2 separate regions of the Homo sapiens genome follow, and region 1 is linked to region 2. Evidence: fine-mapped expression QTL. A gene starts in region 2. The other region holds a variant in brackets. All regions are shown on one strand. Distances are between the middles of the regions.

Evidence for each region. PIP is the estimated chance that this variant, and not a neighbour inherited with it, causes the effect. A credible set is the group of variants that fine-mapping cannot tell apart.
Region 1: its variant is the best candidate, but not a certain one, in a credible set for the expression of LNX1 in aorta (GTEx, PIP 0.52).

Annotation. Positions count from the first base shown.
Region 1 is chr4:53,545,948-53,551,328 of GRCh38, forward strand. All of the region lies in intron 2 of LNX1 (ligand of numb-protein X 1), which reads right to left. Among named protein-coding and RNA genes, the nearest start is that of LNX1, 43 kb to the right of the region's middle. The variant C/A (reference allele first, on the strand shown) is at 2,582.
Region 2 is chr4:53,588,974-53,594,354 of GRCh38, forward strand. LNX1 (ligand of numb-protein X 1) reads right to left here and starts at 2,513. Exons shown (of 11, transcript NM_001126328.3): 1 at 2,415-2,513. It overlaps LNX1-AS2 (LNX1 antisense RNA 2), which reads left to right and starts at 3,983. Exons shown (of 2, transcript NR_046827.1): 1 at 3,983-4,099. RefSeq lists an enhancer at 3,693-4,605.

The DNA.
Region 1 (5,381 bases), 43 kb before region 2:
CAGTGCACCTCACCATGCCCAGATAATTTTTGTATTTTTAGTAAAGACAGGGTTTCACCATGTTGGCCAGGCTGGTCTCAAACTCCTGACCTCAAGTGATCCACCCACCTCAGCCTCCCAAAGTACTGAGATTACAGGCATGAGCCACTGCACTGGGCCAGAGGCCACATTTTTAATCAATACAAGCTAAAGCTTGTTAATGTTTCATGACTGAACTCTGCCCTGCCTCTCTGCTGCCATCCTTTGTATATGAAACTCTTAGAATTAGATAAAAATCCCTGGAAGAGCATATTCAGACATAAAGCCTTATTGCTGTCAAATGGACCCAGGCTGCACGTGTTCAAAATTGGTCGAGGAAATCCCATGTTACCATTCTGAGCAGGCCCAGGTGGTCAGACTCCATCAGAGGATGCTGCATTCATGATGGGTGCTGTGCAGGGTCACTTGCCACACTGTGTCACCTCTATGTCATTGCTTTGCCTAGAGCTGGTAGTTTAAAATTTTAACCACTAGCTCCAATTTTATTGCTTCCTCAGGACACATATCATAAAACGATGAATGCTTTACTCTTATTTCCAAAAAAATGTCATAACTTGTTCAAGGTCACATAGCTTGTTACTGGCAGGGCTGAGTCATTTGGGTAAATTATTAGGCCTTAGTTTCTTCATCTATAAAATAGGGGGATTAGACTAAATCATCTCCAAGCTCTCCTTCGGCTCTCAAAAATTTATGGTTCTGGGCCACAGACACCACCAGCCAAGCAACAAGCTGGATTCAGTCTTCCTCTTCAAACTGGGGAAGGAGGAAAATAGGAAAGAGGAGCTGCAGTGTGAGGGCAGCAAGGAGCTAAATAGCTGAGGAATGAAGGCTGGGGAGGGAGTCGGGGGCAGAGTCAAGAGACTGGCAGATGTGGTAAAGACCGAGCCACTTGTGGAGGCAGAGCTGTGTGGAAGGCGAGGCCTCAGCCACTGACAAGTAGCTCAGGCCTCTCTCCATGGAATTTCCCCTAAGCTAGTTACCCCTTTCTCAGCTCAAGTCAGCCATTTCCCTGCCTCTTCAGTGAGAGGGAGGAAGAGACTGTATGGTTACAGCAACTCCAGTTTCTTGATCTCAGTCCACCTGTGCTTACTGTGGATAAAGTTAGTTGTTACCAAATTATATCAAATCGAAGACTATGTCTATTGTGAGGCGCACCATTATTTTTACAGATAACCAAGAAAGATAGACACTGCAAATTATCTTTGCATGGCGTTATCAATTCTAAGATGGAATCTATTTACAGGAGACATTAAGAAGTATGTCTTAGAATTGATGAAATATATTCTAACTCCCTCCATTACTCATGATAAAATCCACAAGTTAAGGGTTTCCTATGTACCAGGCACTATATTAAATGCTTTACATAATCTCACAACAGCCTGTGAGGTAAGTGTTATTCCCATTTATAGGTGAGAAAAGCTCAGAGAAGGTAAGTAACCTGCCCAAGTTTGCCCAGCTAGAGGAGACTATATAGGAACTGGGGTCAGTCTGACTGCAGAGCATGTGCCTTGAATCACTAGGTCATCTCACCTTCAGCAGAGAGCTACTGGATTACAGTCCTTGGGATGACAAGTGGACTTGTTTCTGGGGTCCCTGACCTCTCCCTCCCCTACTGTTCTGGATAGAGCTGCTAACAAAGGAAGAAAGTCGGGAAGGGCTCACAGGTACATTCTTGGCTCATGGGGCAACCAGGAAGACAGCTCCAGCTCTGGGTATGCAAGAGTTAAACATGGGAGAAGTGGGCTTAGAAGGGCACCAGAATTCCCAGAGATGGCTTTACAGGAAAATATGAGAGAATAAGAAGAAGGAGTCAGAAAGAAAGGAAGGTGAATTTGGTACCTCAGAGCTCCCATGGAGGGGGATGATGACTGTAAGGCTGATGAATATGGTTCGGGGGTCCTGGCATGCATGTGCCTTTCCAAGAACCTGACAGGGACCTACCAGTTGTGAATTCACAATTTTACCTTCCTTTTTAAAAAGAGGACTCAAATTCTGAACATTTCAAGTTTCATAAACCTGGATCCTCCAGTTCCAATCTTGGTGGTAATGAAAGCAGGTGTGGTTGGGGGTGGTGGGCCTCAGAGAAAGCTGGAAGGGCGTGGGGCCACATGAGCACACAGAAGGAGTGATGGTTGAAAAAAAAAAAAAGTCGGGGGAAATATGACTATGAGAAAAGGATGTCTGCTTCCTTGGCCTGCCAAGTTTTATTTGGCCTGCAGAAGTAGACCATTTCCTGCCCCATTCCTTCCAAGACCAACTCCACAGACTGGCAGTGAGCAATTTTCCTCCATTTACTTTGAAGAAGTTGTTTTACCAATGAGCCCTGAAAGTGGGCAGATTGTCATAGAACTCTTAGGTATATTTTTTCTATTCTTTAACAATGTTTTTGTGCCTGTTTTATCATGGATGTATTAATGTAGTAGTATATGTATATAATTTTATATAGATAACTATACATAAGACAAGCAATGGAGAAATTTATTGATTGATATAGGTCTGTGATCAAGAAGTTGCAAGATTATTGCCCTGTGGAGATATTTCT[C/A]CAGTCTCTTAAAGTTCTCCCATTAGAATACTTATACACTGTTGGCAGGAGTGTAAATTAAATCAACCATTCTGGAAAGCAGTATGGCAATTCCTCAAAGAGCTAAAAGAAGAACTACCATCCCACCCAGCAATCCCATTACTGGGTATAAACCCAGAGGAATATAATTCATTCTACTATAAAGACATATGCACGCAAATGTTCTTTGCAGCAGTATTCACAATAGCAAAGATATGGAATCAAACTAAATGCCCATCAATGACAGTCTGGGTAATGAAAATGTGGTATAGATATACCATGGAATACTATGCAGCCATAAAAAAGAACAAGATCATGTCTTTCACAGGAACATGGACGGAGCTGGAGGCTACTATCCTTAGCAAACTAATGCAGGAACAGAAAACCAAATGCTGCATATCTAAGTGGGAGCTGAATGGTAAGAACTTCTGAACACACAGAAGGAAATGACCGACACTGGGGTCTACTTGAAGGTGGAGGGTAGGAGGAGGGAGAGGAACAGAAAGGATAACTATTGGGTACTGGGTTTAATACCTATGTGATGAAATAATATGTGCAAACCCCCATGACATGTATTTACCTATGTAACAAACCTTGACATGTACCCCCCAAATCTAAAATAAAAGTAAAAAAAATAAGTTCTCCCCTTAAAGCTTCTGGGCAACAAGGTCATAAAAGACACTCATCTTGGGTAAAATTGTAGTTACATTCATAGACTTCAATGCTCAATGTTTTGGACCTTTGCTTTCTTACATTTCTTTCAACTTGGACAGTAAATTAAAACCATTGTTCTATTTTTCTCTTTTTCAGTTACTAGCCCAGTATTTGGAATTTGCCAAAGCTATATTCCTCAGAATTTACTTCAAGAGCTCCTTTGTATCGGCGGAGAATGAAGAACGGAGAAGAGGAGGAGGAGGTTGAAAGAAACTTAAGAGATGTGGCAACTAATTGCAACGTGTAGATTGTATTTAGCTCATGATTCACACAAACTAGATATTTGTTATTAAAGAATTATGGTTGTTTTTGGTGTGATATTAGTATTGTGCTCACATTTCTTAAGAATCTATCTTTAGAGATAGGTGCTGAAATTCTTGCAGATGAAATGACATTATCATCTGAGATGTGCTTCAAAAACAGTTAAAGGAGATATCGATAAGATGGCCTTGAATTCACAATTGCTGAAGATGGGTATAGGCCACATGGAGTTTTATTATAATCTTTTCTCTCCTTTTATATTGTTTGTAGTTTTCCATTATAAGTTAAAATGAAGAAAATAAGTCAACCAACATGAAGCGGTCAGTGAGATTCTTACGGACATCCCAGCTTTGCCTCTTATCCGCCTGACATAGTCATGGAACTAGAAAGACAAGCACAATTTGCCAAGCATCAGAGTGGCATCTTGAAACTGCTGGGTTTTGTTTAGGGTGGCCTCCCTAGGAGGAGAACACTTTGGACCAGGGAGTGAACAGCTTGGAACTGGAGTGGCTTTACTGCTGGCAAAAAAGAATTTGCTAATTCTCAAAGGGGGGAAAAAATAAAATCATGAAACAGGATCACAATGCTCTTTGGACATCAAAGAATCATTACAAAACAAGATTTTGGTGAGTTCAATGTAAATGAATGAGGGCCATGCGGCTTCAATTTCCTTCAAAATACACAAGTTTAAAAATTCAAGGAAAAATGCCCTGTTAAACATGTGCTGAACTGAAATGCTTCGAGAGTCATTGAGCCCAAATGGGCCCTGGCTTTGCCCCAAGACTGGATCTTGTTCCTGTTGGAATATGATTTCTCCAACATACCCCATTTCCTCTGTAAACTCTACCTCCTTCCTTCCAGGTCCTCGTCCAAATTCTACTTCAGATGCTCAAAACACAGGACAAGACAAATCCAGGGATCAGCAACACTTTTTTTTCCCCTTTTCAATTTTGATAAGAAAGAAACAAATTCTTGGAGACTCAATTTGGAAAACATTTGCTGGCAAATCCATAAAGCTCACCCTGTTGGTTTGAACTTTGAAAGTGTTGGGAATGGCTAACACAGTGAAAATGAAGTGGGGAGGAAATGGATGCTAAGGCAATCCACTGTATTCCACTCACTCCCGACTCATTCACCCCAGAAAAAATCCAACCATAATCATCTGGACCTTCCTGTGTGGATCTCCATTAGTATAAAGCTTTTTTAAAAAGGCACTTCCCCAGGTCCTGGAGTTCATGGCCCAATACCTGGCCCAGGTCTGACTGAAGTTAGTAGGCAGGAAAAGGAGCTACTAAGGGTGGTCTTGCCACACAGCCTTCACCTAGAGAAGGGGATACTGAAAAGCCAGACCAGGGCGTAATGGATAGATGGAAATAGATACAGAAAATGGAGGCAAGCAACCTCCCCACTTGAAAGCCTGGAACGCCCAGCTGGGTTTGATTTAAAGCTCTCTTTGGGCCTGTGAGCCCCAAAATGAATGTTCTTGTTGCATGAAGTCTGTGCAGTTTGTCAGAGGTGTATGTCGCAGGTTAGGTTAGAGTCAGTTAACCTAGGAGGCGGTTGGTGGTTGGAATCCTTGGTTCTAAGAGCTTGGTGTGTTCTGTGGCTCTGACTCCTGGGGCCTACCACATTTTGCAGGAAGGGCATACATAAGGCTGCCCATAACTCTTACCGCTTTTGGCAGTTTCTCCCCGAGGCCTCATCCTTCTGTTACAGTAGGTAGTTAGACAGACATGAGGCAGGGAAGGCCACCCTCCCCACAATGAGGAATGTCAGGCAACCATCAGGTGATGGTCAGGCAGTTGTT
Region 2 (5,381 bases):
CAATGAGGCTCCAAACCAGGGGCTTCCTCCTGCCAGAGGCTCGGCATGAACCCTCACTCTGGTTAGGGAGAAGGGTGTTTATCTGTGAGACTGGAGGAGACCAAACACCCAGTCTGCCCTGGAGATAGCACGACTGACAGCAAAAAGAACTCTCTGCCAAGTCAGATTACAGCAATGACAACTGGACATTTCCCCCGAAAGGCCCATGGAGAATCACATTTTGTGGGTCTGTTGCAGGATGAGAGCCTTAGAGTGGGAAAAGGAAGAAATCACAGCCAGCCAGCAACTCCTAAAAGCTTTGCCTGTGAGGCTAGCGGAGACAAATCTGCCCACCTTGTTTGATGACATTGTTTAAGAATTCTCCTGCCTGTTTTCTTTTTCCAAACTGTTAACATTGCAGTTAATTACCTACAATTAATTACAATAACAAGAACTATCAAGGTTCCTACAACTGCAACCACATATGATCTTTATCTTGATAGAGTCAGACTCTCTCCTCCAAGCAACCTAGGAAAATTCCTTCCAAAGGAAGAACCTAGCCTCAGTTTAGCACCAGTTAACACCAGGCATTGGTCGCTGGATGCTAACATATATTAGCTACCTCATTTACTTCTCACAACCACATTAGATCATGGGGATTATTATCTCCCATCTTACCGATGAAGAAACTGAAAGTCAGAGAAGTAACTTGCTCAAGGATATAAATGAAGGAGATTGCACATTTTTCCATCAGGCCTATGTCCACTTGAACCAATGGGTGGAGTTACCACAGGAACTCTGGACAGGACTTGTGTGTAAATTACCCAACAGACCAACTGCATTCTAGTCAATCTGACTCTGAATTCCAGTCTTTGTCACTTCTTTTCTTTCTTCTACCTGGGGGTACAGTGTCTACAGCTTTGTTCCTTTAGTACTCAGACATGCTGACATACAGTGATGAAATTATTTATTTAATCATAAATTAACTACTGTGAAAAGCACTAATCAACCATGGTAAACCAGAGGCAATGTAATCTTGAGGAGAGGTTTAGATGCACTTTTATCAGAAGATCCAAGCTTTGAATCAAGTGAGAACCTTAGTAAGAGACAAGTGGTGGCCAAACCCCCCCCCTTAAACTCACAAGCTTGGGGAAAATAATAAACAAAGGTCAGTTAAGGAAGAACAATAGGGACCTCCAAACAGTAAGACAGAAATTAGCAACAAGAACTGGGCAGATTCTTAGTGGTGAGGAACGACTGTCTGTCTAAGGCAAAAATGATCTCAGCTTGTTTCAATTCATACCTTGGGAGAATTTACATGCATTTTGTATTTCTGGGTGGATGAACAGGAGCATAATTCCTAACAGATTATTCCCTTGCAAACATCTGCTAACTTAAATCTCAGAAAAACAGCTGATGTTGGAATCTAGAATGAAGTGTCTCGCAGATTTATTTCTTTTTCCAGTTTTTCCAGCTCATCCCAGCAGGCAGCTGGGCTTAAAAATGGTTTCCTTTCTCTGACAACAATATTGGCTAAAGAGTTTGACTATTGGGCTGTCAAGATACAGGCTGTGTGATCAGGATTAAGAAAACAAAAATGGATCCTAGAGGTAAAATTACTTTAAAAGCCAGGTCCTGGCAGAACAACTTCCTCGGTATATTTGCTATTAAAAGAAAAAGAGACAGAAAAAGCCAAAGAGGTCCAAAAAATTAAAAATCAGACCTGAAGTCACATTCTTGCAGCAATGAGGGAATTAATTCTTACTGTAACCAAAGGTCAGCAGGCAGCCAGTCCAGGTCTAAATGTAAACAAATTCTAAATGCACACTGCAAAGTCGTATTTAAAAGAGTGTTCAACAAAGAGCAAAGAAAATGGTAGACTTTTTCAGAGAAGAGAGGAAAACTGGAACGCACAGCTTCTGAATAGGGCAACAGAATTTGCCCTGAGGAACAGGTTTTCAGGGGGAAAGAAAAAAAAACTAGGGACACTTCACAGGTTTAGATCAAAATACAGGGAGGAAGAAAAGGAAAAATAAGAACTCTGAATCCAGTCTGCACTGGCCTCCTAGCCCCCGTTAAACGGGCTGAACAGATCTGCACCTTCGCGCTAAGTTTCAAAACAAAAGCCTTCACTCTACTTCTCTTTAGGTTGTTGTTGTTGTTTTAATCAGATCAAGTACGAGGACAAGCACAGGCTGGATTAATGATCAGAGAAACAAAAAGGATTAAATATCTGGCCTGGGAGAAGTTTATTGTGCAACTAGAATGTCAAAGTCATCTCTCTACTCTTCTGTCTCAAAAAAGCTTCTCCCTCTGGGGCAAACACTAGCGACAAGCCGTTCAGCTTGTATTTTTTCATTCAAATTCCGTGTTCAGATCCCTCAGGGGCCAGTGGTCTAAATGCCAAGAGAGAAAAATGGAGGGTTTCAACTCACCTCTTCAAGCGACTGTCTGGGGCTCTCCAAGCAGCAGCAGGCAGGCAGCTCTCATTCCTTGTGGGTGAACCGAGCAGCTCCTTGGGCCGCCGGAGTTGTGACCAGCCTCAACTTCGGTGAACAGGTGCCTGGAGGAAGGAGGACGGCATTGGTCGCTCCAGACCAGGAAATGGGTGACATCACGGAAGCCCCGACAGATAAAGCATTGCTGAGACCTTAGGGATTGAAAGAGTCAGGAGGCCCCGCCCACCTGTCATTTACCTGAATACCTGCAAGCAGGTAGGTGGCGTCTCTTTGTGGACAAATAAATCAGTTAGAGCAATTTGCCAGGTGGAATTTACTTTCTTTCCTGAGCACAGCACGTGTCCAGCCCCGTGTTCAGATCTGAAGTCAAATGCCTGGTTGTTTCCCAGGCCCTCCCCTTTCCCCATATCTGCCCACAAAGGAGTTAAAAGGGAAGTTTAAACACCAAAATGAGACAGTAATTTAGCAGACACAAAAAGGAAGAGTGTGAAGCCGAACTTCTTAGAAATATCTGAGGTGCCTTTTCGAACCGCATCCATTTGAACACCAAGTGTTTCTCTAATTCCAATAAAATGACAAATTTAAGTTGACATTTCCAATTCATCTTTTAAACAATTTGAAATAGGATACCTGTCAGCAGTTTCAAAGTGGTTTTCAAACACTTTTGCGCTACCCCCTCCCCCGCCCAGCATTTTTAATTCCATATTCAGGAATTTGCAAAACTTCAGTCATTCCTATCTCGGCTGGCTTGGCAGTTAGAGTCATACGGCAGTTACAGTGCACTGCAGGCCTGCAATTAGGAGCAATTTAAATGATTCAGATTGGAATGGTAGTACTGTCATTAGGCGATGTTGTCTGCTGATATAGCCAGGAAAGAGACGTCAGAGTTATTTCTGTCCCAAGCGTGGTGTGTGACCCTGGACAAGTCACTGGTTGCTTCACCTTTTCCAGCAGGAAAGGAGGCGTAAACTCATCCAGCACCAGAGCAGGCAGCTGGGAGGTATCCCAGGACTGTTAAACTCTCTGGCATCTTCCCAGGAGGGCTGTAAACATCTCCCATCATCCCATTGAAACGCTGCGTATTTTTACCACCTGCATCCAGCATCCCTGGAACTCATTACCTGAGGAAACTGTGGATTCCCCGTCCCGGAAGATGGCCTGCCTGCCCAGAGAGAATTTTTTTTCCCCTTCAGGAAAATAAATGTTGACATTCCTATTTTCCTCCTACTTTTGCCTCCCTCGTCTTCTTCTTTCCCTCCTCCTGATTTTGGGAATGCTTTTGTTCCACCGGTTTTAATATTGGACTACCTAGAGGTTTTGGGGTTTGGTTTGGGGGAGGGTGGAGGAAGAAGGAAAAATGGGAGAGGGAAGAAAAGGAAGTCCGGATTCCCACAGCCTGGGCCTCAGCTGGCTGCAGTCAGTCAATAGCTCGCAAAGCAAGGGGGAGGAGAAGGAAGAGAAATTGTAGTCGAGGGCGGGGTCTGGGGGCCGGCTCTGGTGCTCGACCTCAGGGGAGCTGGCTCCTGTCCCCGATCCGCCCCAGACAGGTCTAAGCTACCTCTTTGCACCTGGGAACTCTGTGCCTTTTGAGAGTTGAAGGCTTAAAACAACAACAACCACCACAACAAAACTATTCACCTTTTTATCCAATAGAAACTAAGGTAGGTGTGGCTATTCCTTTATTATTTAAAAGAAAAAAAGGGAGGTAACAAAACCTTTTACACTCAGGTGTTTCAGGAAAAGGTTTCACGCCACTAGTTTGATAATTGAGAAACATCACTCACACAAAGGCCCCCCTCTTCACGCGGACAGGGTGTCCCCTGGGCAAGGGGGAGGGGAGGGAGAGCCCGCCAACCTGATGAATCATCTAGAAGGCCACGCCTTCAGCGGTCTTGCCTTTGGCGAAGGGCAGGATCCAACTTGGGAGGGGATCACAGGCTTCGGTTCAAGGCCTTGGGTGGGCAGGGGAAGGGTGTAGGTGAAATGAATTCGCATAAAGCTTCACCGAACAGCCTGGAGATCGTGAGGTTTCACTTGCCATGTTCACATACACACAGTCATCTACATATGTGGTGTGATGAATTGTTGTAAAACAGAAAGAAAATAGAGAAATAAGAGTTAATCCAGGAGTGGAGCTAACTCCCAGGTATAGTGTATAAAGGAAGAGAAAAAACTACACAATTAGCCTTCTCAGGTGAGATCTTTCTTGGTACTCCTGGATTTCGAATAATATGCAGGGGTTAAAAAAAATAATATGGGCTTTTTTTTTGGGCCATTAGGGCTGTTACATTATCATGGAAATTATATTTCTAAACTACTAGAAAAAAATGTAATCATAAAAATGAACATTGTGTTTAACAGGTGCTACTTATTGTTCTGAGCACTTTATACAAGAACCCTGTGTCAGGTATCATTGCTATTTGCATTCTACAGCTGGGAAAACCAAGACATAGTGAATCTGAGAAACTGCCTAAGGACAAGCTCATCGGCAAGCGGCAGAGCAGTTTTTAATCAAGGCCCACTTTTTAACCACTGGAAAGAAAAGAGGGAAGGTTCTGATTTCATGCTCACTGGGACACTTCCTGGACACATTCAGCTTCTTACCCATTATTCAGAAGGAGAAGTAGAAACCTGTAGAAGTAGCCCTGGGGAGGGTAGTTTCTGATAAAGGATGTCTCCATTTGGAAATTAATTAGTAATCTGGTCTATATGCTGAAAGTGTGTGTATAATATATATATATATATGTATATATAAATATGTATATATTCATAAATTCATGCATATATTTATGAGAAATCATACCAGGAAATCCATCGCCCCTGGGTGCACACTTGAAATCATCTTTTGAGAGCTTATCAAATCAACCCCAAGATGGAAGGCCAGCTTGAGGGACCCCTCAAGAATGACCAGTTGTAACTCTCTATGACATCTTTTATGGTCAT